Regions from separate parts of the Homo sapiens genome. Here region 2 is linked to region 1. Evidence: fine-mapped expression QTL. A gene starts in region 1. The other region holds a variant in brackets. All regions are shown on one strand. Distances are from middle to middle.

Region 1 (2,905 bases):
ATCTCAAAAAAAAAAAAAAAGTTGGGGTGGGGGGGGCGGTCACGACAATACCAAACAGAAAACACTCTCGTGAAGATTAAGGGAGAGAATAGCTGCAGAGCACTGAAAATACTGCTTGATGCTTGATAAGGAGCAAGCACTGGGAAAATATGACCTGTTACTACTCTGGTGAGCAGTTCACACAGTGAAGTCTTACACCATCTCAGTGGCTCTTTCTCCTCTCTCACTGCCTACGAGACAAAGTGGTCACCACTGCCTCCTCTTCACAGTTGAGGAAACTGAGGCCAAGAGAGTGGAGGTCAGTGAACTACCCAAGGCGTTATCTTTGTCAAATATCTCGAACTTAGAGAAAGTTCAGGTTTCCTGATGACCAGCCCTTTGCTTTTCCCAGGCGCCCCAGCCTAGGGACCCCTCCACCCAAGAACAATAAGCCTGGGCTTGGAGGGAGGGTAGGTGCCACCTCCCTGCCAGGTGCATGTCCGCACTGGGCCTTCCGTGAGTACAAGTCCCCCAGGTACCAGCAGGAGGCAGCATCGCCCGCGAGGTCTGCACGAGCGCTGCTCCCAGCGAGAAATTTGACATCCCTGTCCCTGTTTGCACAAGGCTTGATCTCCGCCTTTGAAACCTGCAGCCCCCAGGAGAATGAAAACCGGAGGTGTTTCCCAATCCGCTGGCCCGGGCGGCGTCGAGGGAGAGAAGCCAGGGCCCCTCTCAATCGCTGCCCCCTACTCCAGGGAGCACAGGCACTCCCGCGGGTCAGCGCTGGACACCAAGGTCCCAACAGGTTTACAGGCTGCCTGTGGCCTGTGGCTGCCAACGAGCTGGTGGCAGGACTGGGTCCAAGTGCCGTGCTGTTTCCATACTGGCTGCGCACAAGCCTACGTTTCTCCCTGAGGGTCGCCATCTCCCACCCAGGGCTCTGCCCTCCACCCTCCCTACCCTTCTGGCCTCGCTGTCCCTGGGGCAAGAACCCCGGTGAGCGAGGTCTGGAACCCATAGGCATCAGTTGCCTTTGCCCCAGGCGCCCAGAGCCGGCCAGCTGCGGTCCAGAGGCGCAGGTCCGCCAGCCGCCTCGCAGGTTGCCCTCAGCCCCTCCCAGGACTCCCGGGGCCCCCGGAGCATCCAACAGATACCCAGGGGCAGGGCCTGGGGCGCCGCGGACGGCACTGGAGGCAGCCGACCCTGGACAGACGACAGGGGAGAGAGCCAAGCGGACCCTGGCAGGAAGGGGGCTGGAGGCGGACGGTGGTCTCGGAGGCCACGGGGTCCGCTCGGGCTCTGCTCCCTCACGGTGGGCACGAGGGTCCGGCGCCCGCATCCCCGCGCCGCTCCCTCCCCACTTGTGCCCCGGGCGCCCCTCGCCCGCGATCACAGCCCATCTCAGCCCGGGCCTCCGCAGTGCCCGGCCCACGCCTCCTGCCCCTTCCCCGGACCCTGCCCGGGAGGTGTGGGGACCCGCAGGGCACCCAAAGCGGTAAGGGAGGAACCCGGCCCGCACACAGCCCCAGAAGCCCAGCGACCCCTAAGCCACGTACCGTCCCCAGGCAGCTCCTCGACGGCTAGAGCTCTCGGGGGCCGCGAGCTGTCCCGGTCCAAGGCAGCAGTCTGATTTCGGGGAAATTAAAAGGGCAGAAAGGAAGCGGCAGCAGAAAAACCCCCGCGCTCCCGCCAGACCAGCCCCTTAAAGGAACACGCGCACCTTTCCCTCCCAAGGGCTGGGCTCGAAGGGAGGAGCTGCTGCAGGCTTGAGCGGTCTCCAGACTCGCTGGGAACCACCGCAAAGAGGGTGTGCAAGAGTTGAGGCCCTCACGTCTTGGGAAAGGAGAGTAGGGGTGGAATAGGAGAGTTTGGGGAGGGGGGATCCCCTTAGAAAGCCTGGTATACCAAAAACAGTGGGAGTAAGCAGGGGAAGCCCCTGTCCAGCATTCTGCTAGGGGCTAAGGCTGCTCCCCACCTTTGATTGTGGAAGGGGTGAGACTTCTGTATTACTTTCTTTTCCAAATAGAAAGCAAGGGGGTGAGGCCAGGTGCAGTGAGTGGCTCATGCTTGTAACCCCAGCACTTTGGGAGGTGGAGGCCGGTGGATCACCTGAGGTCAGGAGTTCAAGACCAGCCTGGGCAACATGGTGAAACCCTGTCCCTACTAAAAATACAAAATTAGCTGGGCGTGGTGGAGCATGCCTGTAATCCCAGCTACTTGGGAGGCTGAGGCAGGAGAATTGCTTGAACCCAGGAGGCGGAGGTTGCAGTGAGCTGAGATCATGCCATTGTGCTCCAGCCTGGGCAACAAGAGCAAAACTCCGTCTCAAAAAAAAAAAAAAAAAAAAAGCAAGGGGTTGCTGATGTCCTCATGCCCCTGAGTTTGGCCATCATGAAACACTGGCCAGATTCCCAACTCACTGTCAGGCACATAGCAGGTGCTATCCCCAGCACATGGGGCTTGAATGAGTGGCCCTGGCTGGGAGGGGAGACACAGGGTGGGATACCTCTGCAGCCTGCAGGGGCAATCAGGCTTCTGAGTGGTCCTCCAACAGGGGTGGGCCTCCCTTCGGAATCCTGCTAATCAGCACAGCCATCCAGGCAGCCGCTCAGGATGCCTCTGTTTGGACAGGGTGTTTTCTTTCCTGTCCAGACCAATGGGGGCCCTGGCCTGGACAGCCCGATGTTTCCTCAGCAGAAAAGACTAAGGAGGTCCTTCAGCTTTGGCTGGGGGAAGGGTCGAAGGGTCACAGGGTCACAGAGCTCAGAGCCTCTTCCTAAACACAGCTCAAGTTGGCCCATGAGTGTGTGTGTGTGTGTGCATGTGTGTGTGTTACACACAGCCAGGGGCACATTGGAGCACAAAGAACTGTGATCAACAGGTAAACTACACCTAAAAGGAACGCCAGGCTTGATGGGCAAAGGGG
Region 2 (2,905 bases), 110 kb after region 1:
CGGCAATATTGGGTTCTAGAAGACGTCTAAGATATATATTGAAAGAGCGCCTTCCAAGTTCTCAGGGAGTTTTGATGCTATAGATGTACACCCGCGTGCATTTTCTGGGGAAAAAAAAGGTTCAAAGACATACTCCAGCAAAATAAAAAACGAATTCACAAACAGGAAATAGTGAAATTAACTGAGGAGCACAATGTGGAAAAAAAAAAATCCCAGAATGACAGTTGTCCACAGACCAGCAAAGTTAGTGGTTCAGTTAGAATAGCAAATTTTTAATTACATTAAAAAATGATTTCAAGAAGAAAGTGGATTCCAATCAACAAATAATGTTTATGAAAGAGGATGATCTTTGTCTCTCCATCAGTAAAAAAGCCAGAGAAGCAATAAACAAAACTCCAGGAAAAACAAAAGGTTATGTAAGTTGTGGCCCATATGTGAAGCAAGCCTTTTCTCTTTCCCTTCTTTTCTCCTCTTTTCTTTTTTATTTATATATATATATATATATTTTTTTTTTTTTTTTTTTTGAGACAGAGTCTTGCTCTGTCACCCAGGCTGGAGTGCAATGGCACGATCTCAGCTCGCTGCAAACTCCGCCTCCCGGGTTCACGCCATTCTCCTGCCTCAGCCTCCCGAGTAGCTGGGACTATAGGCACCCGCCACCACACCTGGCTAATTTTTTGTGTTTTTAGTAGAAGCGGGGTTTCACTGTGTTAGCCAGGATGGTCTCGATCTCCTGACCTCGTGATCCATCTTCTTTTCTTTTCGAGACAGGTTTTCTCTGTGTTCCCTAGGCTGGAGTGCAGTGGTGCAATCTCGGCTCACTCCAGCCTTCACCTCGAGGGCTCAAGCCATCCTCCCTCCTTAGCCTCCCAAGTAGCTGATGGCATGTGCCACCATGCCCCGCTAATATTTGTATTTTTTGTAGAGACAAGGTTTTGCCATGTTGCCCAAGCTGGTCTCAAACTCCTGGGCTCAAGCGATCTGCCCGCCTCAGCCTCCCAAAGTGTTAGGATTACAAGTGTCAGCCACTGTACCCAGTCTATTTTTCTTAATTGAGGTATAATGTACACATGGAAAAATACTCAGATTTTAAGAGTAGCATCCAACCATTTTTATCAAATAATGTAAGTAAAATATAGCATTAACATTCATTTCATCTGTTTCTTTTTTGTTTTGTAATGGGGCTACTAGAAAATTTTAAAATACATCTGTGGTTCATGTTGTATTTATTTTGAGATAGAAATACCCTCATTTAACATATACCCCTATCAAGACAAAGAATATTTCATCACCCCAGAATTTTCCTCATGTCCTTTCCCAGTCAATCCTCCTCACCCCAAAGCAATTGCTGATCTGAAAGAGGCTAATATTGAGAAACAGATGAAGTATGATAACTGGGTGGCCATTCCACCTGGATTCTTAGAATGTCTCCTTCAAGCAGCACAAGTGCAGTGCAAATAATTACATTTAATTCCTTATGGATCTTTTTTTTGAGACAGAGTCTTGCTCTGTCACCCAGGCTGGAG[T/G]GCAGTGGCACGATCTGACTCACTGCAAACTCTGCTTCCTGGGTTCAAGCGATTCTCCCGCCTCATCCTGCCAAGTATCTGGGATTACAGGTGCACGCCACCACGCCCAGCTAATTTTTGTATTTTTAGTAGAGGCGGGGTTTCACTATGTTGGCCAGGCTGGTCTCGAACTCCTGACCTCAAGTGATCTGCCCTCCTCAGCCTCCCAAAGTGCTGGGATTACAGGCATGAGCAACCGCACCCGGCCACTCATCACAATTTTTTGTCCTAACATTATAAACAATATTTATGGGTGTATTGGTTTCCTAGGACTGTTGTAACAAATTACCACAAACATAGTGGCTTAAACTAACAACATACAATTTATTCTCTCACAGTTCTGGAGGCCAGAAGTCTGAAATCAATGTCTTGACAGGCTGCTCTTCCTCTGAAGTCCTGGGGAAGAATCCTTTCTTGCCTCTTTCAGCTTTTGGTGGCTCCAGACATTTTTTGGCTTGTGGCCACATCACTGTAATCTCTACCTCTGTGGTCACACTGCTTTTTCCCCTTCTCTGTATCTTCTCTGTGTGTCTCTTATAAGGACAGTTGTCACTGTCTGTATTCAAGCTTCACTTGGCTAATCTAGGATAATCTCCTCATCTTGAGATTTTAAATCAATTATATCTGCAAAGATATAATTATATCTGCAAAGACCTTTTTCCAACTAAGGTCATATTCACAGGTTCCAGAGATTAGGTCATGGACATGTCCTTTGGGGGGCCACCATTCAGCCCACTACAGTTGGTTTTCTTTTTTTTTTTTTTTTGTCTGAGACAGAGTCTCGTTCTGTCACCCAGGCTAGAGTGCAGTGACGCCATCTTGGCTCACTGCAACCTCTGCCTACCGGGTTAAAGAAATTCTCCTGCCTTAGCCTCCTGAGTAGCTGGGATTACAGGCGTGCGCCATGCCCAGCTCATTTTTGTGTTCTTAGTAGAGACGGGGTTTCACCATTTTGGTCAGGCCGCTCTGGAACTCCTGACTTCAGATGATCTGCCTGTCTTGGCCTCCCAAAGTGTTGAGATTACAGGCATGAGCCACCACACACAGCCTACAATTGGTTTTCAATTCCTAAAGCCCACATCTCAGTGGAAACGTGAACCACGTAGGTTATTTTATTTTATTTTATTTTATTTTATTATTTATTTTAGATAGAGTCTTGCTCTGTCACCCAGGCTGGAGTGCAGTGGCATGATCTTGGCTCACTGCAACCTCTGCCTCCCAGGTTCAAGTGATTCCCCTGCCTCAGACTCCCAAGTAGCTGGGATTACAGGCACTCGCAACCACACCCGGCTAATTTTTGTATTTTTAGTAGAAATGGGGTTTCACCATCTTGACCAGGC

The links. PIP is the estimated chance that this variant, and not a neighbour inherited with it, causes the effect.
Region 2: its variant is the best candidate, but not a certain one, in a credible set for the expression of HAPLN3 in esophagus mucosa (GTEx, PIP 0.57).

The regions. Positions count from the first base shown.
Region 1 is chr15:88,893,924-88,896,828 of GRCh38, forward strand. HAPLN3 (hyaluronan and proteoglycan link protein 3) reads right to left here and starts at 1,621. Exons shown (of 5, transcript NM_178232.4): 1 at 1,536-1,621. RefSeq lists an enhancer at 847-1,458.
Region 2 is chr15:89,006,145-89,009,049 of GRCh38, forward strand. No RefSeq gene overlaps it. Among named protein-coding and RNA genes, the nearest start is that of CARMAL, 33 kb to the right of the region's middle. The variant T/G (reference allele first, on the strand shown) is at 1,527.